Linked DNA regions of Homo sapiens. The protein of the gene in region 1 purifies or fractionates together with the protein of each later gene. This does not show direct contact. Each region holds a gene or a part of one and is shown in the gene's direction. Other genes may lie near its edges. The genes, in order: ACOT7, PLCG2, ALDH9A1, SIPA1L1, FNBP1, NASP and ACO2.

What was found.
Region 2: the proteins of ACOT7 (region 1) and PLCG2 purify together in Homo sapiens (affinity purification with mass spectrometry, with the first as the bait; one study listed by BioGRID). This does not show direct contact.
Region 3: the proteins of ACOT7 (region 1) and ALDH9A1 fractionate together in Homo sapiens (co-fractionation; one large-scale study listed by BioGRID). This does not show direct contact.
Region 4: the proteins of ACOT7 (region 1) and SIPA1L1 purify together in Homo sapiens (affinity purification with mass spectrometry, with the first as the bait; one study listed by BioGRID). This does not show direct contact.
Region 5: the proteins of ACOT7 (region 1) and FNBP1 purify together in Homo sapiens (affinity purification with mass spectrometry, with the first as the bait; one study listed by BioGRID). This does not show direct contact.
Region 6: the proteins of ACOT7 (region 1) and NASP purify together in Homo sapiens (affinity purification with mass spectrometry, with the first as the bait; one study listed by BioGRID). This does not show direct contact.
Region 7: the proteins of ACOT7 (region 1) and ACO2 purify together in Homo sapiens (affinity purification with mass spectrometry, with the first as the bait; one study listed by BioGRID). This does not show direct contact.

What each region holds. Positions count from the first base shown.
Region 1 is NC_000001.11:6,267,715-6,272,113, reverse strand, and holds part of ACOT7 (cytosolic acyl coenzyme A thioester hydrolase), read left to right. Parts: intron 1-4,399. UniProt on the Homo sapiens protein: Catalyzes the hydrolysis of acyl-CoAs into free fatty acids and coenzyme A (CoASH), regulating their respective intracellular levels.
Region 2 is NC_000016.10:81,785,791-81,790,189, forward strand, and holds part of PLCG2 (1-phosphatidylinositol 4,5-bisphosphate phosphodiesterase gamma-2), read left to right. Parts: intron 1-152; 5' UTR 153-199; coding exon 200-392; intron 393-4,399. UniProt on the Homo sapiens protein: The production of the second messenger molecules diacylglycerol (DAG) and inositol 1,4,5-trisphosphate (IP3) is mediated by activated phosphatidylinositol-specific phospholipase C enzymes. It is a crucial enzyme in transmembrane signaling.
Region 3 is NC_000001.11:165,691,686-165,696,084, reverse strand, and holds part of ALDH9A1 (4-trimethylaminobutyraldehyde dehydrogenase isoform 1 precursor), read left to right. Parts: intron 1-687; coding exon 688-833; intron 834-4,399. UniProt on the Homo sapiens protein: Converts gamma-trimethylaminobutyraldehyde into gamma-butyrobetaine with high efficiency (in vitro). Can catalyze the irreversible oxidation of a broad range of aldehydes to the corresponding acids in an NAD-dependent reaction, but with low efficiency.
Region 4 is NC_000014.9:71,669,511-71,673,909, forward strand, and holds part of SIPA1L1 (signal-induced proliferation-associated 1-like protein 1), read left to right. Parts: intron 1-1,608; coding exon 1,609-2,182; intron 2,183-2,837; coding exon 2,838-3,112; intron 3,113-4,399.
Region 5 is NC_000009.12:129,892,916-129,897,314, reverse strand, and holds part of FNBP1 (formin-binding protein 1), read left to right. Parts: intron 1-1,318; coding exon 1,319-1,477; coding exon of another isoform or gene 1,478-1,497; exon of another isoform or gene 1,498-2,054; intron 2,055-4,399. UniProt on the Homo sapiens protein: May act as a link between RND2 signaling and regulation of the actin cytoskeleton. Required to coordinate membrane tubulation with reorganization of the actin cytoskeleton during the late stage of clathrin-mediated endocytosis.
Region 6 is NC_000001.11:45,603,895-45,608,293, forward strand, and holds part of NASP (nuclear autoantigenic sperm protein), read left to right. Parts: intron 1-1,041; coding exon 1,042-1,122; intron 1,123-2,587; coding exon 2,588-2,697; intron 2,698-3,426; coding exon 3,427-4,399. UniProt on the Homo sapiens protein: Component of the histone chaperone network. Binds and stabilizes histone H3-H4 not bound to chromatin to maintain a soluble reservoir and modulate degradation by chaperone-mediated autophagy.
Region 7 is NC_000022.11:41,506,550-41,510,948, forward strand, and holds part of ACO2 (aconitate hydratase, mitochondrial precursor), read left to right. Parts: intron 1-1,241; coding exon 1,242-1,500; intron 1,501-4,399. UniProt on the Homo sapiens protein: Catalyzes the isomerization of citrate to isocitrate via cis-aconitate.

The sequences.
Region 1 (4,399 bases):
GCGGCTTCTGGCCCAGGCCTAGCCCACAGTGGGCACTCAGCAGGTGACAGCTATGATCATTATTGGTGTTGTAGGGTGGGGACCGCCATGTCCACACTCCGGCACAAGAGCTGTGAGCCGAGCGTCCCGGGACCACGGCACTCCGTGCCTGCAGGAGGGGCTCCTGAGAGGCCACCACCCAGGCCCAAGTCCCAATGCCTTTTCTCCCCTTTGTGGTGACGATCTCCCTGCCTCCGCCAGCAGCCTCCCGTTGGCCTTTACGCCTCCTTTCTTGGCCCCACTTGGGGGCAGTTCTTTCGGAGTCTGAGCCGGTGCTGCTGGGTGAGGGGAGCCCCTGGTGAGGGTGTTTATGACTCTCCACAATGATCTCATTATTTGAGACTTCCGGCTGCTTTCTGCTGGAGGCTGGTGCAGTCCTGGGTGGGTGTGGAGGAGGAGGTAATTAACCCAGGCCTGCAGCTGCTGGGAGAGGCCACAGCGGATGGCGGAGAGGCCACAGCGGATGGCGGACAGGCTCCGCTAAGGCAAGGTCCTCAGGTGGAGCAAGACCCTGGGGGCACAGGTGCTTGTGAGGCTGGTGGTCCTGGTGCTAAGCTCATCATTGCTGGCTTCTCCATGCACAAGGCCCCTCGCCCGGCCGTGCTGAGTGTCCTCAATAATGAGATGTTTTCATTGCTTTTGTGATTATCCCAAGACCCCTCTTGTCTCCTGTTATAACAGGGAGAGGGCATGCTACGTGGCTTCCTAATTAAGAAGGTCTGTGTCCCTCAGGCTTACAGGAAGTTGTTATATCACCACTGGAAACCCTTTTTACGCCATTCATTAATTACAAAAAGGACAAGCTATTGATTTTACCGAGGGTGGAACTTAGTCACTCGTCCTCCATACCATGTTCCAAATGTGTGTTCTCCAAGCACAGAAAATGCAAAGTGGAAAACATTTGGTTTGCAGCACTTGGCTCTGAAAGCCACAGGCTTCCCCTCCAGTGGAAGAGAGCCCAGAAGACAGCAGTGGCAGGAAGCACTAAGTGGAGGGAGGAAAAAGATGCAGACCCCAGGCCCAGGCAGCCACTAGGCTGCAGGGGAGCCAGGGGCTTGGTGCTGAGTGCCAGGCGGTGCTCCCTGAGCACCAGGGAGGGAGCGTACTGTCAACCTGCTACCTTGGGACCCTCCCCACCCCTGCGTCCCCATGTGTGGGTGTGACATCCTAAAGGGCCCGCTGCGTTAAGGTGACCCCGGGCCATCTGGCCCTCCTTTGGGGCAGCCACACACCAGCAGGACAGTCCTTGGAGCAGTTCCCAGGCTGCACTTGGCCTCAGGTATTTCTGAGGACAGCAGGACCACCACACAGACACACACACATGCACCAGGGACCGCAGACACATGTGCACACACACGTAGGAGCTCACGTGCACCGGCACCATAGGAAGCACTTTGCCATGTCACTTTGTTGAGTTCCTGTTTCCAGGTGAACAAACCTGGCCCTGGGCCACACAGCTGGGCCCGTGGGACTCAGAGTCCTGCTCCTGGCCATGCTGCCCCATCCCTTCCATCAGGCAGGTGCCCGGGATACATGGGGGTCATGTGCCCTGAGCTGCCCTTTGCCACCTCATCCTTTCTCTCTGGCATATTCTTGGGGAGCCCCAGAGGCTCGGAGGAGCCTGCCTGAGGCCACAGGTGGGTGCCCGGCAGCTGGCACCACTGGCCAGTGCCCCAGAGGCTCCAGTCCTTCCCCCACCAGCAGCCTCGGGGACTTGAGAGAGACATCTGTCTTCCCGCAGAGCGTTCTTTCGTCCTCCACCCACCCCCAACCCTCCATTAAAAACAGCAACAGCCAACAGCGTATGCATTTATTTACTTTGCTGGGTGGAGGGAGATGGCTGCGAGGAGGCAGCAGCCGGGCCGTGGGTGGGGCCTTGTGCTGGAGACATCTGTCTTGCTCTGTCAGCTTCTCACCCAGCGGGACAGGGTGGCCCCTTTGTCACTTGGGTAGGAGAACTATTTAGCAAAGCCATGACCTGGGGAGGCTGGCTGCCCACCAGCAGTGAGCCCGTAACCTACCATGGGACAGACACCGCCCCGCGGCCCTTTGTTCCACCTCCCCCTGGGTGGTGAGCCTGGGTCCTCAGGCACCTGGGACATCCCTGCCCTTGACTGCCATCTTCATAAACCTTCACCCTGGAAGGGCGCCCCTGGGCACTCAGGGAGGAAGGCCGCCCGCACCTTGGGAGGGCAGCGCTTATGGGCGGGCACTCCACGCAGTGACGTTGAGGCTCCTGGGCTGGTCTGGACTCTGTCTCAGAGCCTGGAACATCCAGCAGATACTACCATCCCGGGAGACGGGAAGAGCAGTGGGGCCCTCACAGGCTCTCAGGCTCCCACACATCCATCCATCATCAGACAGCATTTGCTTTGTCTGAGGGCAGAGCCTGGCTGATGAGTTTGCTGCAAATATTAAAGAGCAGGGCCACATCAGAGCCGCCTTGGGGCCCGTTGCTGGGCACCAGATTCTCCCTCAGCCTGGAGCCGACCCTGAGAATGACCTGCACCTGGGCTCGTGCCCGCCTCAGGCTGTGTATTAACTGACCTCGAGAGAAGCAGTCACAGCCCTCGGCCTGTGGCATTGGGAATGCTCGATGGCCTGGTGGCCGCTGGGGTGGGAGCAGCTGTAGTGGTTTGGGATAATATGGCTGAGGGCAGGGCAGGGCCCCCGCCTGGGGGAGGCCAAGCTCAGCAAGTGCTCCTAGGCTGTGCCGAGGGCCGGGGTGAGGTGAGGGGAGGCAGGGAAGCCCCTGACCCTGGTTCATCGTGGACACGCTGCAGGTCCATCGCCTTCCTCACTTCCCATGGACGAGTCCCACCCCTAAAAGTCCCTCGGCATAGGACGACCTGGAGGGCAGCCCCCATGCCCAGGTTTAAATGGAGGCTCTCCCCTTACCCGCTGTGTCACTTTGGGCAAGTTACTCAGCCTGTCTGTGCTTCACTTCCTCATTGGTAAAAGTGGACAATCATTTCTGTGCTGCTTGGTGGGGTTGTTGGGAAGACCCTGATGTGCACAGCCTGCCGCGCCCTAAGCATGGGTTGCGCAGGGAATATCCCCTTATCGCTGTAGTCCCTGCCCCACGTGCACAGCCCATGTGGGGGCAAAGGGGTGGGAGGGCTCTCGTCTGCAGTGCCTTCTGCAGACCCAGAGTTGGGTGGTCCTCCCACGCCCTCGGCGGCTGGAGGGCTGTGGTCACATCTCTGGTAAAGATGCCGAGAGCTGTAGGAAGTTACTCCTATTCCACTCCCAGGTGGTCATGGAGGCCAGATCGTTAGGGGACTCGAGGGCTCCGCTCCACTGCTGCGTGTGGCTGGCAGAGGTGAGGACCGGGCTGTATGAAGCCCTGGAGGTTTTCTCGCTCTTGGGCGGAGATCTCCCTGCCGTTCGGGCCGTGCCGCGTGCGTGGGGCCTGGGGCCCATCACACACCTATGAACTGGACCAGAAGGAGCATGGTCCTGAGTTAGCTCTTAGCGCCTCTTGGCGGGGAGTGGGGAAAATCGCGCCTGTGCACAGCCCAGACGGCTCCCTCAGCTCTGCCCGCAGCCCACCGCTTGTAAAGCCAAGTCCCCGTCTCTTTGGGGCCTGGAGATCATTGGTGCCTAGGGAAGAAAGGAGGGGCTGGTTTTCCTAGATCTAGGTCTAGTTAGTTTTTTGCTTTTCTAGCTTTTTAATTATAGAAAAGGTCAAATATACGCAAAAGTAAAGAGAAGAAAGAATTCCTGTGTAGTTATTAGCTCAGGGCCAGTCTTATGCGTTGACAGCCCTGACTACTCCCCCACCACAGAGAGCTCTCAACTGTGGAGGTTTTCTCTTTTAACAGCTTTACTGAGATGTAATTACATGCCGTTCTGTTCACCCACTTCCAGGATACGATTCAGCAGGTTTTCTTCTATTCACAGAGGTGGACATCCCCCGCCACAGTCTATTTCAAAACCTTTTATCTCACCAAAAAGAAGCACCACCCCTTAGCCACCACTGGTCCCCCAGCCCCAGGCAACCGCCAATCCACTTTCTGCCTCTGTGTATATGTCTCTCCTGGACATCTCGTGTAAATGGGTGATAGGCAGACCCTGTGACCGGCTTCTTTCACTGTGTTGTTTTTAATGCCTGGTTGAACATGGGCTGCAGGGAGAAATTTGGTCCCCGCAACTCTGCTGTGAGGTGGACATTGGCCCATTTTACAAAAGAGGAGTCGATGTGAGTCAGTGGTGAATCAGGATTCACACCCGGCTCCAGGGTTGAAGATGCTGGGCTGGTTTCCAGGCGGAATGAAGAGACCATCCCAGGAAGGGCACACAGCATGGTTGGGTCCCAAGGTGGGCAAGCCTCTGCCTGAAGCAGCCCATCCCAGAGGCG
Region 2 (4,399 bases), on another chromosome or scaffold:
TGAGTGGCCAGCGATGCCTTGCCACTAGAACCTTCTCCTAAAACTCATCCTGATTGACATGAGACAGGATTTTGGTTCCTGAAGTTCATGCCCTGTTAACTAAACCCCTTTCAGTACTAAAATCAGTTCACTCTTTAATTCTGCCCTTTCAGCTTCCTGATTTCTCCCGATTCCTTCCTTCTCCCTGGAGCGGCCGACAATGTCCACCACGGTCAATGTAGATTCCCTTGCGGAATATGAGAAGAGCCAGATCAAGAGAGCCCTGGAGCTGGGGACGGTGATGACTGTGTTCAGCTTCCGCAAGTCCACCCCCGAGCGGAGAACCGTCCAGGTGATCATGGAGACGCGGCAGGTGGCCTGGAGCAAGACCGCTGACAAGATCGAGGGCTTCTGTGAGTACTCGCTGGGTGGGGCAGTGTGGCCCGTCCTCTGGGGCCCTGGCCTGAGCACCTGTCCACCTTCCTGTCTTGTCATTACTGTGATTGTTGTTGGTTTGATGTGTTCTTTTATTCGTCTTAAAATGAAAGCATTGCCAGTTTGTGTGGATCTCTGATGAGGTTTACACCAGGTGGAGGAAGTTCAGCTGGGAAAACTCTGGTGAAAGAACTGAAGCTGAGGTCAGCCAACATGGAAATGGCATTCAGGCAGCTCTCCTTGCCTGGTGGTTCTGTGCCCTGTCTGACAGCATCAGGGATCGTCTGGTTCCCACAACTGGTCGAGTCATCTTTCCTCTTAAGGGCGAATTAGCCCAAGCCTGCAGAAACTCATAGCTTGGTCGCCAAATGCTACCTTGTTTTACTGCATACCATAGCAGTGAGGGGCCTTTGCTTTAGTCTCCAAGCAGGGAGAGTGAGTTGTTGAACGTTTTGTAGCTTTCAAATGCAGGTCTGGTCTTGGTAGAGGTGTCCCTCCTCCCCTACCTCCGTTTGATTGGGCAGCTGGTTCAGATCCTAAAGTTTCTAAGACTGTTTTTAACAAATAGAGTAAAGGCACTTAAGCAATTTTCAGTTGCAAATATTTGCTCTAATTTGTGTTTTTAAATTAACTAGTTTTTAATTGAAATATATATTCCTGGGGGTTAAGGAGTCAACTCAAATATTTCTCCTCCCTAAACCATCCTACTGAGGCAAGCTCATTACCAGTTACTTTTATCTTCCAAAATAGTCTATGCTTGCATAATGTGTGGGTTTAAAAAGAAAACAATTGGGAACTCTTGTACACTTCTGCACCTTGACTTCTTTTTGTTAATTAATAATGATGTTGGCGGTGGTTTCTTATCAGCACACATTGATCTCATTCTTTCTTGGACACATGACATGTAATGGCACAGGCCTCAATGTAACAGTTTAACTCCAGAGAAGGGCATTTCATGCTATTTCCAGGCTTTTGTTATTATTCGAAGTGACTATCATTGTACTCTTTTTTTTTTAAAACAAAATTAATTTTTTTGAGACAAGGTCTCTTTCTTTTACCCAGGCTGGAGTGCAATGGCATGATCATGGCTCACTGCAGCCTCAGCCCCCTGGGCTCAAGTGATCTTCCTGCCTCAGTCTCCCAAGTAGCTGGGACCATGGGAATGCACCGCCATGCCTGGATAATTTAATTTTTTTTTTTTTTTTTTGTAGAGATGGGATCTCACTATGTCCAGGCTTGTCTCCAATTCCTGTGCTCAAGTGATCCTCCCTCCTTGGCCTCCCAAAGCATTGGGATTACAGGCATGAGCCACCTCACCCAGCCTTGCACTCTTTTTTTTTTTTTTTATAATAGATTGATTGAGACATAATTCACATAGTATACATAGAATTCACCCATTGTATGCAGCATGTATAGTGTGGTGGTTTTAGTATATTTATATAAATGTGCAAGCACCACTCCAATCAAAAGTAGAACCTTTATATCACCTCAAGATGAAACCCCATACCTTTCACCATCACCCCATCCCCTCATCCCCCCTACCAGACGTAAGCAACCGTTAAATTTAATTCTGTTTCTATAAACCTCTCTATTCTGGACATTTCATAGAAATGGATCCTATGTATGTGGGCTTTTGTGACTGGCTTCTTTGACTCAGCATTTTTCAAGGTTCATCCACTTTGTTGCGTGGATCAGAAATTTTCCTTTTTGTGGCAGAATCACGATACGTTGTATGGGTATTCCACAGTTTATTCAGTCATCTGTTGACGGACCCTTGGGTTGTTGCCACCTTTTGGCTAATATAAATAGTGCTGCTAAGAATGTTTCTCTACAAGTTTTTGTGTGGATGTCTGTTTTTATTTGTTTTGGGTATATACCTAGGAGTGGAATTGCTGGGTCATACACTAACTCAGTTTCATCATTTTAGGAACTGTCAGACTGTTTTCTAAAGTGGCTGCACCATTTATATTCCTTCCAGTGGTAGAAAAGGGTGATCGTTGCATTATTCTTCATTTGTATATATGGGTATATCTGAAGGACAGCTTCCTGAAGGTTTATTTCTGAGCTGAAGGATATGGCATATATATATTTTAATAGACAGAGTCTCGCTCTGTTGCCCAGGCTGGAGTGCAGTAGTACAATGTCAGCTCACTGCAAGCTCCGCCTCCCGGATTCATGCCATTCTCCTGCCTCAGCCTCCCGAGTAGCTGGGACTACAGGCGCCCGCCACCACGCCCGGCTAATTTTTTGTATTTTTAGTAGAGACGGGGTCTCACTGTGTTAGGCAGGATGGGGGTATGGCATATTTTAACTTTAAAGGGAAGTTTGGCAGCACCCCACAAAAGAGGTTGCCCCCACTGTCTGTTTCAGCCACAGGATGTAAAAGTACCTGTTGCCTGAACCCTCATCTATGCTGCGTGGCTGCTGAACTTGGCCATCCACAGGTAGACTTTGGTAGCTTGGTGTCATCCTTAATTTGATGTATCCTATCATGAGTGTGATCAAACTGCTTTCTGAAAGGCTTTTCCTGGTTTTGGAGCCCAGTGGGTCTCTTGTGGCACAGAGCCAGAGCCCTGCTTTGGAACTGCCCATGTGGAGGTGGCCATCTTCCCTCTTGACTGTTTGCATTGGCCGGCTCCACCCCCAGGTGGCCCAGAAACCTGTTGCAGCTGGGGTGGCCACCCTCCCTTCCCCCACAAGGGGTGAGAGGGTTGGCACTGATGGTAAATACAGATGGGCCACGTTGAGACTGGACTGCAGGTTGTTCCTTTCTCTTCTCAACCTGCCCATCCCAAACCTAGCTGCCCATCAGAAACACCCAGGGGGGATCTTGTAAGTATAGGGTATTAACCATGGCATGTGTATACACCTGTGTAACAAACCTGCATGCTCTTCACATGTATCCCGGAACTTAAAGTAAAATAAAATAAAATAAATATATACAAAAAAGAAATTACAGGGTATTAGAACCTTCTTCTGAAGCTCATTGTGATGGGCATGAGACAGGATTTTGGCTTGAAATCTATGCCCTGTCATTCTCCCCTTCTGCTGAGTAATACCATTTCACTCGCTTACGCGGATGCGCTCTCTCGCTCTCTGTTTTAGAGACAGGGTCTTGCTCTGTTGCCCAGGCTAGAGAGCAATGGCCTGATCATGGTTCACTATAGTTGTGAACTCCTGGGCTCAAGTGATCCTCCTGCCCAGTCTCCCAAGTAGCTGAGACTACAGGTGAGTGCCACCATGCCTGGCTGATTTTTTAACTTTTGTGTAGATAGGGTCTTGCTATGTTGCCGAGGCTGGTCTCCAACTCCTGGCCTCAAGTGATCCTCCCACCTTGGTCTCCGAAAGTGCTGGGATTACAGACAGGAACTACCATGCCCGGCCTCAATTCATTCTTTTATTTATCTGTTCAGCCTCTTTATTTCCTTCTTCTTTCTCCCTGGAGAGACCAAGAATGATGATATTTCACCACTTTGGCTGGGGCGTATTATTATAATAAGTCCCCCGGATGGTCTGGTAACTAGGCAGGTTTCACACATATGCCACTGGAGAGACACTGCCCTTCCTCCACCTTCCCCCTCCTCTCCCTCCTCTTCTCCCTCCCACTTTCCCTTTCTTTCTCCTTCCCTTCCCACCTTTGCCCCCCCTCCATTGCCTCCCCTCTGTCATTTGGATGCCCACTGTAGGCGCCGCCCTAGGCGCTAGAGATACAGCAGTTATTAAATTGGATTCAAATCTCCGTGGAGCCTATATTGCTTTATTAGGTATGAGCAGTCTGGGGCTTGACTTCCAGTGCCCTTGGATGAGCTTTGCTGTGTGATCTTGGGCAAGTTACCTCCACTCTCTGAACTTTAATTCCCTTATCTGTGGACTGGAAATAACATTGGTGTCTACCCCACAGGCTCATGGTTGGGAAGAAGCAAATGAGAAGATGCATTGGAGAGGCTCGGCTGAATTCATAGTGTGTGACAGGCACTCAGTTGTT
Region 3 (4,399 bases), about 160 Mb from region 1:
AGGTCAGGAATGTAAGACCAGCCTGGCCAACATGATGAAATCCCGTCTCTACTAAAAATACAAAAATTAGCTGTGTGTGGTGGCAGGCGCCTGTAATCCCAGCTACTCGGGAGGCTGAGGCAGGAGAATTGCTGGAACCCAGGAGGCAAAAGTTGCAGTGAGTCAAGATCGTGCCATTGCACTCCAGCCTGGGTAACAAGAGCGAGACTCCGTCTTAAAAAACAAAAAAACAAAACAAAAAAACCTGCTAGTATAGAGATGGTCACTAAATCAAACCATACATAAAAACAAGAAGTTACGGTAGCCCACGCCTGTAATTCCGGCACTTCGGGAGGCTGAGGCGGGTGGGTCACAAGGTCAGGAGATCAAGACCATCCTGGTCAACATGGTGAAACCCGGTCTCTACTAAAAAATACAAAAAATTAGCTGGGCGTAGTGGCGTGCACTGGTAGTCCCAGCTACTCAGGAGGCTGAGGCAGGGGAATCGCTTGAACTCAGGAGGCAGAGGTTGCAGTGAGCCGAGATCGCGCCACTGCACTCCAGCCTGGGTGACAGAGCAAGACTCCATCTCAAGAAAAAAAAAAAAAAAAAAAAAAAGACTACTACTAAGAGAATATTGATAGATAATATTTTATTTAAATATGTGGCAACAATTTGAGTTAAAACTGATGTTTCCGCTCTTTATAGGCCGAGTGATAGCTACTTTCACATGTTCAGGAGAAAAGGAAGTAAATTTGGCTGTTCAAAATGCAAAGGCTGCTTTTAAAATATGGAGTCAAAAATCTGGCATGGAGCGTTGCCGAATCCTTTTGGAGGCTGCCAGGATAATAAGGGTATGTTCCAATTTATTTCCTTCCAGAACTCAGACATTGCTCTGAGGTTTCTTTGTGATGTTTGCAGTTCGACTTTGTTGCAACATTAGGCCGTAACGTTTTTATAAAATGGAAAAACATTTCCACATGCTCACCTTAGTATATAAAACAAGTTTTTGTTCAATACTTCCCATCTGGATGTTGGCTCTTGGACATCTCCTTTGGCAGGTTTTCATGTTTGTAAAGCTTTGTTTTGAATTATAATGCACTCTTTATAGCTCATCGTCCTTTTTTTATTTTTATTTTTTTTTTTTTTTGAGACGGAATCTTGCTCTGTCGCCCAGGCTGGAGTGCAGTGGAGTGATCTCGGCTCACTGCAACCTTCGCCTCCCGGGCTCAAGCAATTCTCCTGCCTCAGCTTCCCAAGTAGCTGGGACTACAGGTGTGTGCCACCATGCCTGGCTAATTTTTGTATTTTTCGTAGAGATGGATTTCACCATGTTGGCCAGGCTGGTCTTGAACTCCTGACCTCAAGTGATCCACCCACATCGGCCTCACAAAATGCTGGGATTACAGGCGTGAGCCACTGTGCCCAGCCTTTCTTTCTTTTTAAACCATGTGGTTTACTTGTTTCCTTTTTATTCTTTATTTTGATGATTCTCAAGTCTACCTTTCTTTTTCAGATTTGTTTTCAGATAGGGTTTTAAGTATCGTTACTTTAATTGGGAAGATTTCATAGATTTGTAGATGTTCCCTTTAAAAAAAAGAGAGTTAAACTTTTTTTTTACATCATAAATATATACAATTTTTATTTGTCAACTAAAAAAAATTGTAAAAACAAGTATTTAATACTCATCGCAAAACATAAAAAGCCTGCAATGCAAAGGGTTTCTGTGGTGTAGTAGTTACCACGCTGGCCTAACACACGGAAGGTCCTCTGTTTGAAACTTGACGGAAACAAAAGGTTTCTTTTGTTTCCCAGAATCTGACCAGGCTGCCTCTTCCTGGGAGTCCAGAGCTGCGAGGAACAAGTGATAATCCTGCCTCCTTTTTTTTTTTTTTTTATACTTAAGTTCTAGGGTACATGTACACAATGTGCAGGTTTGATACATAGGTATACAAGTGCCATGTTGGTTTGCTGCACCCATCAACTCACCATTTACATTAGGTATTTCTCCTAATGCTATCCCTCCCCCAGCCCCCCACCCCCTACGGCCCCGGTGTGTGATGTTCCCCACCCTGTGTCCAAGTGATCTCATTGTTCAATTCCCACCTATGAATGAGAACATGCAGTGTTTGGTTTTCTGTCCTTGTGATAGTTTGCTCAGAATGATGGTTTCCAGCTTCATCCATGTCCCTGCAAAGGACATGAACTCATCCTTTTTAATGGCTGCATAGTATTCCATGGTATATATGTGCCACATTTTCTTAATCCAGTCTATCATTGATGGGCATTTGGGTTGGTTCCAAGTCTTTGCTCTTGTGAATAGTGCTGCAATAAACATACGTGTGCATGTGTCTTTATAGTAGCATGATTTATAATCCTTTGAGTATATACCCAGTAATGGGATGGCTGGGTCAAATGGTATTTCTAGTTCTAGATATTTGAGGAATCGCCACACTGTCTTCCACAATGGTTGAACTAGTTTACAGTCCCACCAACAGTGTAAAAGTGTTCCTATTTCTCCACATCATCTCCAGCACCTGTTGTTTCCTGACTTTTTAATGATTGCCATTCTAACTGGTGTGAGATGGTATCTCATTGTGGGTTTGATTTGCATTTCTCTGATGGCCAGTGATGATGAGCATTTTTTCATGTGTCTTTTGGCTGCATAAATGTCTTTTTTTGAGAAGTGTCTGTTCATATCCTTTGCCCACTTGTTGATGGGGTTGTTTGTTTTTTCTTGTAAATTTGTTTAAGTTCATTGTAGATTCTGGATATTAACCCTCTGTCAGATGGGTAGATTACAAAAATTTTCTCCCATTCTGTAGGTTGCCTGTTCACTCTGATGGTAGTTTCTTTTGCTGTGCAGAAGCTCTTTAGTTTACTTAGATCCCATTTGTCTATTTTGGCTTTTGTTGCCATTGCTTTTGGTGTTTTAGTCATGAAGTCCTTGCCCATGCCTGTGTCCTGAATGGTATTGCCTAGGTTTTCTTCTAGGGTTTTTATGGTTTTAGGTCTAACATTTAAGTCTTTAATCCATCTTGAATTAATTTTTGTATAAGGTGTAAGGAAGGGATCCAGTTTCAGCTTTCTACATATGGCTAGCCAGTTTTCCCAGCACCATTTATTAAATAGGGAATCCTTTCCTCATTTCTTGTTTTTCTCAGGTTTGTCAAAGATCAGATGGTTGTAGATGTGTGGTATTATTTCTGAGGGCTCCGTTCTGTTCCATTGTTCTATATCTCTGTTTTGGTACCAGTACCATGCTGTTTTGGTTACTGTAGCCTTGTAGTATAGTTTGAAGTCAGGTAGCATGATGCCTCCAGCTGTGTTCTTTTGGCTTAGGATTGTCTTGGCAATGCAGGCTCTTTTTTGGTTCCATATGAACTTTAAAATAGTTTTTTCCAATTCTGTGAAGAAAGTCATTGGTAGCTTGATGGGGATGGCATTAAATCTATAAATTACCTTGGGCAGTATGGCCATTTTTGCGATATTGATTCTTCCTATCCATGAGCATGGAATGTTCTTTCATTTGTTTGTGTCCTCTTTTATTTCATTGAGCAGTGGTTTGTAGTTCTCCTTGAAGAGGTCCTTCACATCCCTTGTAAGTTGGATTCCTGGGTATTTTATTCTCTTTGAAGCAATTGTGAATGGGAGTTCACTCATGATTTGGCTCTGTGTTTGTCTGTTATTGGTGTATAGGAATGCTTGTGATTTTTGCACATTGATTTTGTATCTTGAGACTTTGCTGAAGTAGCTTATCACCTTAAGGAGATTTTGGGCTGAGACAATGGGGTTTTCTAAATATACAATCATGTCATCTGCAAACAGGGACAATTTGACTTCCTCCTAATTGAATACACTTTATTTTTTTCTCCTGCCTGATTGCCTTGGCCAGAACTTCCAACACTATGTTGAATAGGAGTGGTGAGAGAGGGCATTCATGTCTTGTGCCAGTTTTCAAAGGGAATGCTTCCAGTTTTTGCCCATTCAGTATGATATTGGCTGTGGGTTTGTCATAAATAGCTCTTATTATTTTGAGATATGTCCCATCAATACCTAGTATATTGAGAGTTTTTAGCATGAAGGGCTGTTGAAATTTGTCGAAGGCCTTTTCTGCGTCTGTTGAGATAGTCGTGGTTTTTGTCTTTGGTTCTGTTTATATGATGGATTACGTTTATTGATTTGTGTATGTTGAACCAGCCTTGCATCCCAGGGATGAAGCCAACTTGATCATGGTGGATAAGCTTTTTGATGTGCTACTGGATTCTGTTTGCCAGTATTTTATTGAGGATTTTTGCATCGATGTTCATCAGGGATATTGGTCTAAAATTCTCTTTTTTTGTTATGTCTTGGTATCAGGCTGATGCTGGCCTCATAAAATGAGTTAGGGAGGTTCCCTCTTTTTCTAATGATTGGAATA
Region 4 (4,399 bases), on another chromosome or scaffold:
TCCACTTAGAAAAATCTAGCAAACCTGGATTTCAGCATCTTTTGCTTGACTTTAAGAGAAAAATAACACGATCAAATTAAAATTATACAGCTGTCAGCGTTCAAGTCAGGCAGTTCACAATAGACAAGAAAAATTGCCTTCCTAATACATATTGGTATAATTAAGCCATATGGAAGTCTCTGAATTCTCTCCTCCAGTTAGAAAATGGAGTGTTGGTTGCCACTGTTCTTTGTCATGAAGTGAACTAGGTAGTCTTTTAAAAATACACTTGTAAAACCAACAGATAGGCCATCCCATGGCATCTTCTGAGCATGTAGCTTTTCCATTCCACCAGAAATATAATTTGCCTCCTGAGGTTGCTGATTTTTATTTTTCTTATTTTCACAAGAAATAACTATTTCTTGAAAAACAAAGCTGAATATCTTAAAGCAAACCCTTCCTAAAGAAAAAAAAGTGAAACAGAGCTCTTCAATTTTATTTGAAAGATGCATACTCTCTGATGATGCCATTTCTATTCCAAGAGTTCAGAAGAAACCGATTTTTTTATTGTTTCCCTAATACTAAGTATAATTGCATAATTTGTTCACTTTTAATTTGGAAAGAGCGATCTTCGATGTGTTAGAATCATTTCCAGTCATGTCAAACTTTACTAAAATCTTGGGAAATGATATAAAACACTCAACCTCTCTATTTCTATATCAACAACTTCCTTTGTTGTTTTAGGAGAAACTTACTTTTTTTCCTTTTGAGGTTAAAAATAATAAGTTATTACAAATGTTCATATGATCCTTTTCTTAGGCCCAATTTTAGGAATATATAGTCAGAAGAAATGACTGGAACAGGCTTTCTTATATCAATCTTGCTTAAAGGAATGGGAGAAGGAAAATATTTTTCTTAGAAATAGATTATCAGAATAAAATACCAAAAGGACCAAGGAATAGCTCAGTTTAAAAATATGATTTTAAAGCGTTGTTGCTATTACATAAAGATTCTCATACTATTACTCAGATTCCAATTTTCATTTTAAAATTATGCTTTTAATCTGGTTGCATAATGCCTCACACTTAGGCCAACAAATACTAGTTAAGTTTTATTGAAATTTAATTCATTTCTTTTATGGCATGCATCTTCTGATATTTTCAATGTAAGCTGTCTGCTTATAGCCATCATATCTAAAATGGAGAACACATTTGTGTTCTCACAGAATGTATGCTTGTTCTGAAAGATGATGTGGTTACAGTAACCTCCCTTGAAAACAGTTAGTAGGTATTTAAAATGTCTTACACAGAATATTACAGTAAACCTATTTTTTTTCATGGAGTTTTGGTCAGTTTCCTGTCTGGTAAAAAAAAAGTTAATAGTGTTAGCTTTTGGGATTTTGGGAGGTTTGTTTTTGGCCTAGAAAAAAAATTATGTTGTGTAAATCCTAAATGCGGTAGAATGAAAAAATATACTCGTATTAAGCAGAAATGTGTGTTGTTTCTCATGGAAAAATAAGCAGCTATTTTGTATCTGAGGTACATCTTTGTCTTTGAGAAAGTATATTTTATTCTGATGTTGTGAGACTGAGAAATACTGACGTGGCTCTCTTTGATCTTTGTCTCTCAGTGTGGCTGTTACCAGGTCCAGAGATGTGCCTTCCTTTGGGCCTCCCATTCCTAAAGGGGTCACTTTCCCTAAGTCAAATGTGTTCAGGGACTTCCTTTTGGCGAAAGTGATTAATGCAGAAAATGCTGCTCATAAATCGGAGAAGTTTCGGGCCATGGCAACTCGGACCCGCCAGGAATACCTGAAAGATCTGGCAGAAAAGAATGTCACCAACACCCCTATCGACCCTTCTGGCAAGTTTCCGTTCATCTCTCTGGCTTCCAAGAAGAAGGAAAAGTCTAAGCCATATCCAGGAGCCGAGCTCAGCAGCATGGGGGCCATTGTATGGGCAGTCCGGGCTGAAGACTACAACAAGGCCATGGAACTAGACTGCCTTTTAGGGATCTCCAATGAGTTCATTGTGCTCATTGAACAGGAAACAAAGAGCGTGGTCTTCAATTGTTCCTGTAGAGATGTGATAGGGTGGACTTCAACTGACACCAGCCTCAAAATCTTCTATGAACGAGGAGAATGTGTTTCAGTGGGTAGTTTTATTAACATTGAGGAGATCAAAGAGATTGTCAAAAGGTTGCAGGTGAGTCTCTCCTTCCTCTTCCTTACATGCAGTTTCTCTTTCATAAAGTTTTCAATACAGACTAGAGCCAAGTTACTGAACCTTGTGCTCTGTTATTAGCTCCTCTGAAAACTCCCTTGATGTGTGAAGCAAACAGAGTTTATCTCATGCTTGTGTTTTCCATGGATGTTTCGGAAAAGTAGAACAAATTGGGGAAGACACATTTACTCTGTGTGTGTGTGTGTGTGTGTGTGTGTGTGTGTGTGTGTGTGCGTTCATGTTCAAAACCCATTTGCATGTGACCTGTTCCCTGGTGCTGCAGTCCAGTCATCTGGTGGTGGTGTTGAAAAGAATTGCTTGAGTATCTGCTGCCTTGAATTTTACAAAGGCTAAATGAGTAGCAGTATATGGTTTCTATTTACTGCCAGCTCCCTGTAGGTCTCTGGTAGAGGTTTCCTTGTAACTTCAGGGAAGCCGTTGAGCTTTTTGGATGCAACAAGTATATTCCTTTTGGCCTAATGAATAGGAGATTAGTGAAGAGGAAATAACCAGACTGCTCTTCAGCTGGCAATAAGGTATTCAGAACTAACCCTGCTTGCAATGATTTTCCAGTTCCATGTCCACCACTTAATACCCTATTGCTTTAAACCACAGTATCTTTTATTTCCTTGTCTAGTTTGTTTCAAAAGGCTGTGAATCGGTGGAGATGACTCTGCGAAGAAATGGGCTAGGACAGCTTGGCTTCCATGTCAACTATGAGGGCATTGTGGCGGATGTGGAGCCCTACGGTTATGCCTGGCAGGCAGGGCTGAGGCAGGGCAGTCGCCTGGTGGAGATCTGCAAGGTGGCGGTAGCCACTCTGAGCCATGAGCAGATGATCGACCTCCTGAGAACATCTGTCACGGTGAAGGTTGTCATCATTCCCCCGCATGATGACTGCACCCCGCGGAGGTAGGTCTGAGGAGACAGCTGTGGGCCTGAGACTCGAGTGCAGGGTTTGTGTACCATGTAGAACATCTCTTAGCAGGTAGTGGAGTAGGGTGTTGTGAAGAACAATAGGTTACATGTGATGCTGAATGTTTCATCCATGGAGTCTGACTCAGGACGAAGCTCCCTTTCAGTGTGTGGTGACAGCAGCTGGAAAGAGTGACTAAATGGGACCATTCCCAGGATTTACATCACTGGATTTATAAAGTTGCCATGACAGATAGAGAAGTCTGGTAATATCTATCTTAAGAATTTTCCACTGGGAGCTGAGAAACATTGAACACATTGAACATTAAAAGACACTCAACATCTCAAATTGTCAGATTGCTTTTCTTCTATGTTCCATGATGCTCTTATTCTCTTCTCTCTCCTAATTGCTGCCCAAAACTCAGCAATTGTTTGGACCTTTGCTGTCTCAGTCTGGCAGCTGCTTTCCTAACTGTATCTGCATGTGCTAGGGTTTGGCTTCAGGTGAGCTGCCCCTGCTCATGGTGCTTTGGCATTTTGGTTCCTAGTCTTTTCCAGAAGGGAAAACCTAAGAGCTCCCTGCCCCACCCAACCCCCCACAGCTCCTGCCAAGCCAGCAGCACTGTTGAAAATTTAATTTCTCTGTCTCTGGGGAGGTTTATTGGTGGAAGAAATTTAATCAACTGTTTATTTTCTCCTTTGGACATGCACATGCTATTTTTGCTAGTTTTTAAGATCTCTCTTTTTAGTTTATGCCATTATTTTCTAAGAATTTCTCTTAAGCTTTGGCAATTGATTCTTAGGCTTTCTAAAGCCAAGACAGTGTTCTGTGTCCTATTTTGCCACTAAGATGACCAGTCCTACACCTGAGCTCTCATGGATTTGTGAATATCAGATGGTAGAAAGTTAATGGTTATGATAGGCTATTTGTGTCTTTTAAAAAGTAAAGAGCAGCAAATATATATGTGTGTGTGTGTGCGTGTGTGTGTTTTATATACTTTGCTCAGGATAGTATTTCCTAATACTGCTTACCTCCTAGATGGCCTAGGGATTATGTATATATGTCAAAATATAGAAAAATTCCTTTGTCTGATAGTTTGAAGAACTTCCTTTTGGATGACTGCATTTCCCTGGAAATCAAAATATGAACTTTTAATTTCACCTGTTTTGGAGAGGAGTAAATATTCAGAAACTGCCCTACCCACATACCCTGCCTTAGTTAACCAGGTCTAATGAACCTTATTAGCCTTTTCTGGTTTCCCCAAGCATATCATCATTAAATGT
Region 5 (4,399 bases), on another chromosome or scaffold:
CTGGGGGGTGGTGGGCAGCCTTTGAAATGATCCTAGCAGAAGGTCTTGGGGGCCTTGTTCAAGGAATGGATACAGAGATGCCGCCATTGACAAACTGCATATATTCGGGGCTGATCAAAAGCCAGGAACAAAAAGGAGAGGAAATCCAAGACGGCTCCCAGAGTTGCATTCCTGGGAGGACAGAGAGGTCTAGGGAAGTGGAAAAGCAGGAGGATATAGTTAGGAGGAAGAACAGTGAATCCAGGTTCATCTATGTTGTTTCAGGTGTTGGGGCCATGTCTAGGTGGCAGTGTGCTGCAGACAGTGGGAAAAGTGGAATCTTGGCTGCAGAAAGTACCAGAATGGAAGCAATATGTGAGGACAGTGTTTAAAGAGGAGCAGTTGGGCCGGGCGTGGTGGCTCACGCCTGTAATCCCAGCGCTTTGGGAGGCCGAGGCGGGTGGATCACCTGAGGTCAGGAGTTCAAGACCAGCCTGACCAACATGGTGAAACCTCGTCTCTACTAAAAATACAAAATTAGCCGGGCGTGGTGGCACATGCCTGTAATCTCAGCTACTCGGGAGGCCGAGGCAGGAGAATCACTTGAACCCGGGACAAGTGGCATCACACTCCAGCCTGGGCAACAGAGCAAGACTCTGTCTCAAAACAAACAAACAACAACAACAAAAAAATTGGGAGGCTGAGGCTGGTGGATCACCTAAGGTCAGGAGTCAGACCAGCCTGACCAACATGGTGAAACCCCATCTCTACTAAAAATAGAAAGGTTAGCCGGGTGTGGTGGTGCACACCTATAGTCTCAGCTGCTCGGGAGGCTGAGACAGGAGAATCGCTTGAACCGGGGAGGTGGAGGTTGCAGTGAGTTGAGATTGCACCACAGCACTCTGGCCTGGGCAACAAGAGCAAGACTCCATCCCCCACAACCCCCCCAAAAAATAACAGACAAAAGAGAAGCAGTTGGAGCCACGAGGGTACCTTTCTCCTGAGAGAGATCCAAGTGAGACAGAAGAAGACTAGAGAAGAGAACCAAAGATTTATCCAGTGAGAAATACTTACCATTCTGGGAGGGAGGAGAAAGAGGGCCCTGGAGGACTTAGAGAGGGTCCCTAGAGAGACAGAGGTAAGAACCTGGACATTTCTGTGCAGAAGGAGATGGTTTTGAGGCAGTGGGTGAGGGGTCCGTGCATCTGAGAAGGTCCGAGTGGGGTGAATTTTGTGTGGACTTCATCTTCGACGACACTTGTTTCATTGCGAAGGCCACTGTTTGCTTCCTCCCTGCATTTGCCAAGACATCTAACATATCCTGATATTGCTTTTTCAGGTCAGAATGAAGGAACGATTTCCGTAGTTGAAGGAGAAACATTGTATGTCATAGAGGAAGACAAAGGCGATGGCTGGACCCGCATTCGGAGAAATGAAGATGAAGAGGGTTATGTCCCCACTTCATATGTCGAAGTCTGTTTGGACAAAAATGCCAAAGGTGCTAAGACTTATATTTAATACCATAAAAAAAAAAAACTTAAAAAAAATGGAGTTGTTTCTCCCCACAACCATGACTGTTACAGGCAGTTCCTCAAGAGACTGGCTGGCAAGCACCATAATGCACGTTCTCCTGTAGTCTCACGTGGACTTCAGGGTCTGGGCACCTGAATTGCCTTGTCTAGTTTGGGCTGTAATCAAGTTTCACTTGCTGATGAAATTTTATGTGGAAAGCTGCCAACCGCCAACTTACAGCTATGTCATTCAAAATCTGATAAACATTTCTTCTTTTGGCGGTATCTGTAGATTAAAAAAAAAGTTGCATTGTAGCTTCTCATCTTTCTGAATTTAAAAGCCGGCACGCATCATGCAGGTGCCAAAGACTTCCCTACTCTTGTTTATATCTAGTATCCACCATACACTGAGCTACATTAGGTGGTTACAGATTGTAACTTAATAAACTGAACTGTGTTAGTTTGTTAAATTGTATACTCATTCACTTGGGAGGAAGTCACAAGTGAAATAACATCTCCTTCTTGACTAAAGCAGTAAATAAGATTCTTATATTGGCACCAAAAGTGTGTGTTTTTACTTAAACCTGGTCAGCATCCTTGGTAGGGCATCACGAGTACCCTGTTCCATCTACATGATCCCAGACAACCAGCTGAAATCTGGAAAAGTTTGGTGAATTGACCACTTGATTTTTACATTGCATTGCTGATTTTCCAAGTGTCATCAAATTGACAGGTTTTTGTTGTTGTGTTTGTGTTTTTGTTGTTGTTGTTGTTTTGAGACAGAGTCTGGCTCTGTTGCCCAGGCTGGAGTACAGTGGCTCACTGCAACCTCCGCCTCCCCCAGGTTCAAGCGATTCTCCTGCCTCAGCCTCCCGAGTAGCTGGGATTACAGGTGTGCACCACCACGCCTGGCTAATTTTTGTATTTTTAGTAGAGACGGGTTCGCTCTGTTGGCCAGGCTGGTCTCAAACTCCTGACCTCAAGTGATCTGCCTGCTTCTGCCTCCCAAAGTGCTGGGATTATAGGCGTGAGCCACCGCACCTGGCCCAAATTGACAGTTGATCAGATGTGCTAGTGCTGTTTAGATGGAGTTACTTAAAAGGCAGAGCGTGTCCCTGCATCAGCTCCTTTTGGCTGTGATTTCCTCTCACACTTGGTTCGGTTTCTGTTGGTTTTCCAAGTAGAGCTGCACTCACGCTTGCCCAGGTGGGGCTATAAAGAGAACGTGGTGTGGCAGCAAATGCTTCTCCCCACAGACACAGATCTCAGCACATTGCTGTTCAAAGACTTTGGGGGTTTGCTTTTGTTTTTTTGTTGTTGTTGTTTTTGTTTTGTTTTGTTTCTGCTTTTAATCATTGGCAAGGTTTGGATTTACTGGAAATTATTTTAGAATTTCTGGCTCATTTTATACAATTAACTGTAGCCAGAATGAAGTAAAATGTCTCACCACATCGAAAGGAATCTAGGCCACATGAGAATTTGCATTTTTAAATTGGCATTGATGTGGGAGGGGAGATAGTGAAGTTGGTCACATGCGTAGATGGTTGCCAGGCATTTCACTGTGCCCATTTCCAGAATCCACCCCGAGATCATAGACAACCCACTACAAATGGGTCAGAATGAAGGTGTTGGGTCAGATTCTCTTTTTATTTGATTTTGAAAATTATTTCCTTGTGTCCTTCCTACTTTCAAGTAGGAAATTAGCCCCTGCCTGCCTCTACATTGTGGGTTCATTTGATCAGCTCAAGTCCATTTAAAGCTGATTTTCCAAGCAGTAGCTGCACATTCGGGCTCTAGAACCTAGTAGGGGTTCTGGATGCTAGGGGCCGTGTTTCAAGATTCTCACAGCCAGTTAACCTTTATTTAGTGACAGCCTGATTTTTTAAAAAACTTTTTTTTTTTTTTTTTTTGAGATGGAGTCTCGCTCTGTCGCCAGGATGGAGTGCGGTGGCACAATCTTGGCTCACTGCAACCTCTGCCTCCTGAGTTCAAGCGATTCTCCTGCTTCAGCCTCCCAAGTAGCTGGGACTACAGGCGTGTGCCACCATGCCCAGCTAATTTTTTGTATTTTTAGTAGAGACAGGGTTTCACCGTGTTAGCCAGAATGGTCTTGATCTCCTGACCTCATGATCTGTCCACCTCAGCCTCCCAAAGTGTTGGGATTACAGGCATGAGCCCGTGCCTGGCTTTTTTTTTTTTTTTTTTTTTTTTTGAGACAGAGTCTCACTCTGTCACCTAGACTCAAGGGCAATGATACAATCCTGGCTCACTACAACCTCTGCCTCCCGAGTTCAAGTAATTCTTGTGCCTCAGCCTCCCCAGTAGCTGGGATTACAGGTGCCTGCCACCACACCCGGCTAATCTTTGTATTTTTTTTTTTTTTTAGTAAAGACAGGTTTTCACCATGTTGGCCAGGCTTGTCTCAAACTCTTGGGCTCAAGTGATCCGCCCGCCTCAGCCTCCCAAAGTGCTGGGATTACAGGGTGAGCCACCGTGCCAGGCCCAAATTTCTTTTGGATACTTTTGCTGGCATAGTATCAATAAAGCCACCCATCCCGACCCCAGGCCTCTTTGTAGATATTGCAGCAAGAAAATCAGCTGACCCTTCAACCACAAGGATCTGTTTAAATGAGCAGTAGGAAGTTTCCAGCTTTACCCAGTAAACAAGTGAATGGGAAACCTAAGGTATTAAAATCTGACCTTTCTATCCGATGACAAACTCATTTCCAGTCTGTGAACTCCTGGACAAAGCAAACTAACCACTGAAAAACTCGAAAATAGGGCAAGACGACATTAACCTTGTGAAAGTCTGCTTTGAAAAAAGGCATTCTGTCAAGCTGTGTATTTTTTTCTTGATTATTCAAATTTATTTCGTTATTCAAATTTAATTCAGAAAATAGCTCAGTTGG
Region 6 (4,399 bases), about 39 Mb from region 1:
CACTGTGCCCAGCTGTATTTAGGTATTTTTATTTAAAAATGCATGGTTGTCTTACAACATAAAATGTTACCTAAGTTTTTAAGCACACATAAATACTTTCTCTTAGGTTATTTTTCCCAGATTACTGGAGAGGTCAGTATTCCCACTTTCCTGCCATTAAGGGTATTTAGGAGGAAAATTTGAGATGTCTTATTCTAATCTAGTAGACTACCCTTAAACATGACCTCCATCACAATTTACTGCTTAGATTCTCTAGTTACTCTCAATAGACTCTTAGGCCATTAGTTGGCCTGACTTTGCATGAATTCTGCCAGTATTTTACTCCATGAAAGCCAGTCTTCTTACCTTACATAGAGAAGTACTTTCTCCTTTTGTTCATTATACTTACGTAATTTTTGTCCTTCTTCCTTCTGTCTAGATATTAATAGCTAAGACTTAATACACAGTGCTATTTGTTGTCTAAACATTGTTTTCAGTGCTTTTACATACATTAACTCATTTAGTTCTTGCAATAGCTCTTTGAACAAACAGTTATTAACATTCCCATTTTACAGATGAGAAAACTAAGGCACTGTGAGAATAATTTGTCTAAGGTCTCACAGCTAGTTATGGGTTAAAGGTAGGATTTGAATCCAGTTAGAAGAACTCCAGATATTCTGCGCTTTACATCATGCCTTTCCATGGGCCTTAATCATCCTCTAGGTCCCAGCCAAAGGTCCTTTAACTATTCTGATCCATACTGACATCCATCTTTTAGCAGGAGGAATACCTATTAATACCTTAGGGCTGTTTGGCCCTACATTATGTATTACTAATTGTAGCACATTTATGTCACTTAGGATGTATATATATTATATATTGATAAAGAGCATACAAAATTTTCATGCATTGTTTAATGTCACTTTGACCTTGAAAGCAAGAGGGGTATTGGTTTTCTAGGAGTATGTTACTGGAGAAATATCAATTTATAACTGAAGAACTAGAACTAAATGTTTTAGATTAGATGGTAATTCAGATTTTAGATGTTTATTCTCTTTGTAGAGGTAAGAAGTATGGAGAGACAGCTAATGAGTGTGGAGAAGCCTTCTTTTTCTATGGGAAATCACTTCTGGAGTTGGCAAGGTATGGATGTTGTATTTAAAAACTGAAGTTTCCTTGTTAAGATTGTTTACTAGCTTTGAGATTTCACAGGAGCTAAGCAAGATTGGTTTTACCTAGAGAGTTTTGAAGGAGCTTGAAGTAGTGATGGAAGTTGTGAATGGCACTTGATACAATTAGTAGTTATATTTAAGTTTTGACTTTTGGAGTCAGTAGAAGCAAAGTTCTTTCCAGTAGTGAATGATCCAAAGTTCAGTGTAGAGAATCTTTAAAAGCACTGTGAGCTAGCTCAAAACAAGGACTGAATAGAGGACAACTGGAAAGAATTAGCAAGTGAGACTGTCCAGTAAAAAAGACTTTTACTATTGAAAAGTTCTTGGCTATGTTCTATCAGAATTTATTAATCAGAATAAGTTCTGTTTAGGGTATACAAACTAGCAAATGATGTCATCTATTTAATCTCAGTTCTGGTAAGGTTTTTTTTTTTTGAGATGGAGTCTCAGTCTGTCACCCAGGCTGGAATGCAGTGGCGCGATCTCGGCTCACTGCATCCTTCATCTTCCGGGTTCAAGTGATTCTTCTGCCCCAGCCTCCTGAGTAGCTGGGACTACAGGCATGTGTCACCACACCCGGCTAATTTTTTATTTTTAGTAGAGACAGGGTTTCACCATGTTGGCCAGGCTGGTCTCGAACTCCTGACCTCAGGTGATCCACCCACCTCGGCCTCCCAAAGTGCTGGGATTACAGGCGTGAGTCACTGCGCCTGGCCCAGTTCTGATAAGTTTTTTTTTTTTTTTTTTTAAGACGGAGTTTCACTCCTGTCACCCAGGCTGGAGTGCAATGGTGCGATCTCTGCTCGCCGCAACCTCTGCCTCCCCGGTTTGAGCGATTCTCCTGCCTTAGCTTCCTGAGTAGCTGGGATTACAAGTATGCGCCACCATGTCCAGCTAATTTTGTATTTTTAGTAGAGATGGGGTTTCTCCATGTTGGTCAGGCTGGTGTTGAACTCCTGACCTCAGGTGATCTGCCTGCCTCCACCTCCCAAAGTGATGGGATTATAGGCGTGAGCCACCGTGCCTGGTCTCTGGTAAGTTTTTAATCTCGTAATCATACAGAACTTTCTCATGATTTGCCGTGAAAATCTTGCTAGAGTATTTTTGGCTATTTAGAGAAATCGGGTGGATACAAAGTTTGGGAAATAGTATGGTCCTATTACAAATGGAATGCATATAGGTCTTGTTCTTTTGACAAGAGACATGCTTTTCAGGCGGCTGGATGGAGGAATATGCTTATTTCCTTCAGTGCTCTTGCAGTCTTAATTTATATTACTAAAGTTTTGATCATTGCTTCCTTGAATATACATAGTTTTGTATTGCCTGCGCTTGGCTTACACTTCTTGCTTTTATAATATAGGACTGTATTTTCTGTCTTAGAAAAAATTGCTAGGTTCTAGCCATCAAACCTTTGGTGCTTTCTTTTGTTCTCCTAGAATGGAGAATGGTGTGTTGGGAAACGCCTTGGAAGGTGTGCATGTGGAAGAGGAAGAAGGAGAAAAAACAGAAGATGAATCTCTGGTAGAAAATAATGATAACATAGATGGTATGTGGAGTTGCATGTGACATTCAAGAGATGCGACGTTGTATATTTCTTGTATACAGTGGTGGAAACGGGGCTCTACCTGTCCTGGATGGTCTCTCCTAAGATGCTTGGGGTGATGATGCCTGCATCTGGTGGAGATTGCAGTGGGGATAGCTGTTTACTGAAGCTGACAGCAGATTTTTGAAAGAGAATAACTTATTTTCTCAAGTAAATCCAGTTATTTCGATTGGGGTTTTTTAAATCAAAAAGATAAAAGCAAGATTAAATTGGTGTTTTAAATACTATTACAACCTTAAGTGTTTTTCTGATGCAAATTTTTTTAAACAGCCTGTGCAGTTCAGTTATTTTAATAGCAGTACTTTTAGAGCCCTTGTACATTTTTTATGTGTGCGAAAATTATATAATTTCTAAGCTGAATTTGGCTGCTATAGTTTTACATATCAGATGGGGGAGAATGAAAAGCTTGGCATCTCTTACCTAACTGGTAATCAGAATGCTCAAGTAAAACAATACCTAGTGTAACAAGCTTGGGTTTCTTTTGCAGTAAGTTGCTCTGCTAGCCGGGATGCTCCCTTTCCTTTTCTCTAGGGGGCAGATAATTTTTAGGCCATCTGCTGAAACTTGGTAGGCTTTTTGAGGGTTTAAAGGGAATGTATTTTTAGTTTCCATTTATGCCTTTATCATTAAACTCGAAGACATGTTTATGCTTCATGTTCTTTAACCATGTAGAGGAAGCAAGGGAAGAGTTGAGAGAACAGGTTTATGACGCCATGGGAGAAAAAGAAGAAGCCAAAAAAACAGAAGACAAGTCTTTGGCAAAGCCTGAAACTGATAAAGAACAGGACAGTGAAATGGAGAAGGGTGGAAGAGAAGATATGGATATAAGTAAATCTGCAGAGGAGCCACAGGAAAAAGTTGACTTGACTCTAGATTGGTTAACTGAAACCTCTGAAGAGGCAAAAGGAGGAGCAGCACCAGAAGGACCGAATGAAGCTGAGGTCACTTCTGGGAAGCCAGAACAGGAAGTACCAGATGCTGAGGAAGAAAAATCAGTTTCTGGAACTGATGTCCAAGAAGAGTGCAGAGAAAAAGGAGGTCAGGAGAAGCAGGGAGAGGTAATTGTGAGCATAGAGGAGAAGCCAAAAGAAGTTTCAGAAGAGCAGCCTGTGGTGACTCTAGAAAAGCAGGGCACTGCAGTGGAGGTAGAAGCAGAGTCTTTAGACCCGACAGTCAAGCCAGTGGATGTGGGTGGGGACGAGCCAGAGGAGAAGGTAGTTACCTCTGAAAACGAGGCAGGAAAGGCGGTTCTTGAACAACTGGTAGGTCAAGAAGTACCACCTGCTGAAGAGTCACCAGAGGTGACAACAGAGGCTGCAGAGGCCTCAGCTGTAGAGGCTGGATCAGAAGTCTCTGAAAAGCCTGGGCAGGAGGCTCCAGTTCTCCCTAAGGATGGTGCAGTCAATGGACCGTCAGTTGTAGGAGATCAGACTCCTATTGAACCACAGACTTCTATAGAAAGACTGACAGAAACAAAAGATGGCTCAGGACTAGAGGAGAAGGTCAGGGCAAAGCTGGTTCCTAGTCAGGAGGAGACTAAGCTGTCTGTAGAAGAGTCTGAGGCAGCTGGAGATGGGGTTGATACCAAGGTAGCCCAGGGAGCTACTGAGAAATCACCTGAAGACAAAGTTCAGATAGCTGCTAA
Region 7 (4,399 bases), on another chromosome or scaffold:
GCCTCATTCTGTTTTTTATAGAGACAAGGTCTCACTCTGTTGTCCAGGCTGATCTTGAACTGGCCTCAAGCGATCCTCCTGCTTTGGTCTCCCAAAATGCTAGGATTACAGGCGTGAGCCACCACACCAGGCCCCCAGGTCAGGGTTAAACTCAGAGCTTCTGACTCCCAGTCTGAAACTTTTTTCTTGGCCTCAAACAATAGGACAGAGCCTGTCAGGTGTGGGTTGAACTCTGCTCCTCCTTAGGAAGGAAGTCTCAAGCTTGGCCTAAGCTTTGAGAATTCTGGGGGGCAGAGCGTGAGGTCTGAAAGGGGCTGTTGTGGCAGGCAGGGCGGCCACAACAGCCCCTTTGCTCTGTTGTGTGGGTGCAGCCGGGAGTCAGCCGGAACGTTGAGCCTGGCAGGGAGAGTGGACCCGCGCAGAGCTCAGTCTAGATGGCTGGGAGGCTTGTGGGGAGAAGACGGTTGAGTCCTGACAGGGCCGGACCCCAGGGCAGGTTTGGACTGCCATTTTGGCTCTGATGAGGAAGGGAGGGGTGGGGCCTCCGGGGAAATGGGGTCTAGGAGGAGGAGGAGCTGTGAGAGGCCAGTGGCAGTGACCCGGTCTCTGTTCTTGAAAACTGACAGATACTCCTGTCTATGTCTGGAGCTAATGGGCAAAGTCTTAGTGTCATAGTTGGGTAGCCAGGCATCCCAGGCCTGAGGTGTGGAGGGTTGTAGATGGCGGACAGGGTGGACAGGTGAAGGGGATGCTGGTCCTGATTCCCTGTGCCTTAGTGGGGCTGAGGGCACAGAGGGAAGTAGCGAAATCTAGCTGTGAACTTGGTCACTCTCCTGAGCCTGTTTCTTGGTTGTTGTTAAATGGCTTTCTTGGTTGTTGTTGTTGTTAAATGGCAGGAATGATGAGATATGCATGTTGCGGGGACTTAGTAGGAATTACGATGCTGGGAAAGCCAGGATCCTTTGAAAAGAACCAGCGCTGCCCTCTTGTGATGTTGTCATTCACTTACTCATCAAGTAATTGTGGAGCACCTAACAAGTGCCAGGTGCTGCAGGAGGTGAGGAGGTGGTGCAGTGAACAGGACCCAGCAGTCCCCACCCAAGTGGAACGTTGAGGTCCTGAGTTCAGACTCCCTGTCCCTGGCCACTGTTGAGGTTGCCACATGGACTGAGAGGGAGAGGCAGGGCGGGAGGAGGCCGTGCAGCTAGCACCAGGCCACCCTTCTGCTCTTCTCCCCACAGACTGAACCGGCCGCTGACACTCTCGGAGAAGATTGTGTATGGACACCTGGATGACCCCGCCAGCCAGGAAATTGAGCGAGGCAAGTCGTACCTGCGGCTGCGGCCGGACCGTGTGGCCATGCAGGATGCGACGGCCCAGATGGCCATGCTCCAGTTCATCAGCAGCGGGCTGTCCAAGGTGGCTGTGCCATCCACCATCCACTGTGACCATCTGATTGAAGCCCAGGTTGGGGGCGAGAAAGACCTGCGCCGGGCCAAGGTGAGCAGAAGGTGGCTTTGGGGGTGGGCAAGTGGGCAAGACTGGGCGAGAGGCCTCACCCTCACACTGGAGCAAACCAGGGCATTGCCTCCAAATTCTCACACCTCTTTGGATTGGTCTGCTTTTAAAACTTGATTTTACTTGTTTCTCTTTCTAAAAATAGCACTTGCTCATTATGTTAAAAAATACAGAGGAAGCCTAAAGAAAGAAAAAATCATCCTTGACCTTACCACACTGCAGGTCCTTTTTCTGTCCTGTTGGAGGATGATGTGGATCCTGCCAGGTGCTCTGGAAGGGGCCATGCAGGCCTCCCTGTCTGCCTGAGCAGTGAGGGGTGCATCTTAGCATAGTTTGCCAGCATCCCATTTGCACCCACTCCCGCTCTCCTCTGACCCTCCAAGGACCCTCTCCGGGAGGTAGGCGTGCTAGGGTCACTATTTGTAAATTTGAGGCGGCAGTGGCATCATACTTGAGTTCTGTAACTACATGAGGGCACGATTAGGGCTCAATGCTGATCCTGGCTCCCACTCTGGTGCTCTGTCACTGAGGAGCCTCCTTTGGGGGCCATTCTTCTGTGAGTTTTGCTTAACTACATGGGGGTGGCTGTATGCCATGCTGAAGGCTTTTCCCCCACCCTTCTATGAAATCGAGTTCCTGCTCCTTCTCCCAGGCTCGGCTTGTGGGACCTTTGTGTCAGCCTGCTCTTGGCAACAGCGGGCCTCTCTCTCCCAGCTCTGGGCCTCCCCACTCTCCAGCCCCTGCAGTGGGAGTGGGTCCCCCTCACGGGGAGGGGCGTTGGCAGGAGCTGAATGCTGGCAGGGCTGCGGCCTGTGGGCATGTGATTGAAAGTGCTCCAGCTCCCAGGGTCAGCATGGCTCAAAGCCTCCCAGCCCCATGGGAAACACTCGGGGCGGCGCTCTCACTCAGACCCTCTCTTCCACCCTGGCCCCCTGGTGGTATCCTGGCTCCACAGTGGCTCTTTCCCCTCAGCTGAAAGGACAGTCCTGCCTGCCGGCCGGCGGTTTCCACATTAGCAACAACACTGGTGGGGGTAATAATGTTACAGGAGCTCCCACAGTGCCGGGAACTGCACATGGCCGGGAACGTGGGTCCTCTGCAGCCCTGGGGACAGCTGCCCACAACAGGGCTGCTACCTTCTGGGGCTGGCTTTCTGCTTGCTTTATGGGCTCAGAGTGAATCTTCTGGAGATGAGATGCACACTCATAGCATTCAGAGCTCATTCCCTCATGCGTTCAACAAATTGAACATTCTTTATGTGCCAGGCACTGGGCTAGGTACTGAGGTTCAGTGTGAACAAGTCAGGCAGGGGCCCTGCCTTCAGGGATCTGCTTGTGGGTGTGGACACTAAACAATGGCCGAGGTAGGTAACTGCAGATCTGGGTATGTGTTAGGAAGGGAAAGTGCGGGACTTGGTCAGTATAAAAAAGAGGTCTAATTTAGATGCTGGGGGAAAGAGAGAGCTTCTTTGAGGATGTGACAGATAACCTGAGGACTGAACATATGAGTTGCATTGACTGGAGGAAGAACATGCTAGAAAGAACAGCATTTGCAAAGACCCTGAGCCAGGAAGAAACTTGATGCTTTTGTGGAAGTGAGAGGGGGCCTGTACTGCTGGAGTTCTCTGTGTTTGGAAGAGCGGGTGGTATGAGGTGGGCAGGGGCAGCCAGGAACGCGAGGGCTGTGGGAACGCTATGGTCACCATCCTCAGAGTCCTAGAACAGTTTAAGCGGAGAAAGAATATGGTCTTTTTTTTTTTTTTTTTTTTGAGACAGAGTCTTGCTCTATCCCCCAGGCTGGAGTGCAGTGACACACAATCTCGGCTCACTGCAATCTCGGCTCACTGCAACCTCCGCCTCCTGGGTTCAAGCGATTCTCATGCCTCAGCCTCCCGAGTAGCTGGGATTACAGGCACCCACCACCATACCTGGCTAATTTTTGTATTTTTACTAGAGACAGGGTTTCACCACGTTGGCCAGGCTGGTTTCAAACTCCTGACCTCAGGTGATCCACCCACCTCGGCCTCCCAAAGTGCTGGGATTATAGGTGTGAGCCACCACGCCCGGCCTAGAATGTGGTCATTATTACGTGTATTTGTAAAGTGTCCCTCTGGCTAGGGCTCAGAGGCAGTGACCTGTCTAGGGTCACAGAACCAGAGATGGATCCAGGCTGAGTCCAGGCCGAGACTCTGGCACCAGTCTGGGGTCCTCCCACACCCCTTCCTCACACTTAACACAGACGTGTAGTCACATGCGCCCAGACACGACCACAGCCTCCTGTCCTGGATACCAATTTCATAAGTGACCGATTTGTAAATGAAAAAGCTGATGTATTAATTATTAATTGGAAAGAGACTGCTCTGGAAACCCACGTTCTTTGCCATTCTCTTACCTGGGGGAACCCAGTGGGCCTTCAGAGGGCACACACTGGTCTGGAGTTTCAGTGAAGGGGTGTGTGGTTTGAGTGTATCTCATCAAGGGTCCGAGGGCACTGGCTGAGGTCCCTTCTCTGAAGCATCGCTCTCCCATGCCGGAGGCTGGCAGGTCCCATTTCCTAGTTCCTCCTTTGAGACTCAGTAGAGTCCACTAGAATCCCACCGTTTTGTTACTGGGGTCAGTCTCACTGACCCCACACAGGGACCTCCCATGTCTTCCAGATAAACCCTGGCCTCACATCTGCTGTGCAGTGGGCCCTTCCCTGTCCCTCAAGGAAGCTTCCTTCAGATTATAGGCAGGATGGCTACAGCCCGTGTCATCATTTCGTTTGGCTGAAACCTCCTTTTCAGAACAGTGGTCCCTTCGACAGCCTTCCATTTGGGCCCATCAAACACATTACCAAGAATTCAGCACTTCCGACAGTCAGACACCAGTCCAGGGGGCTC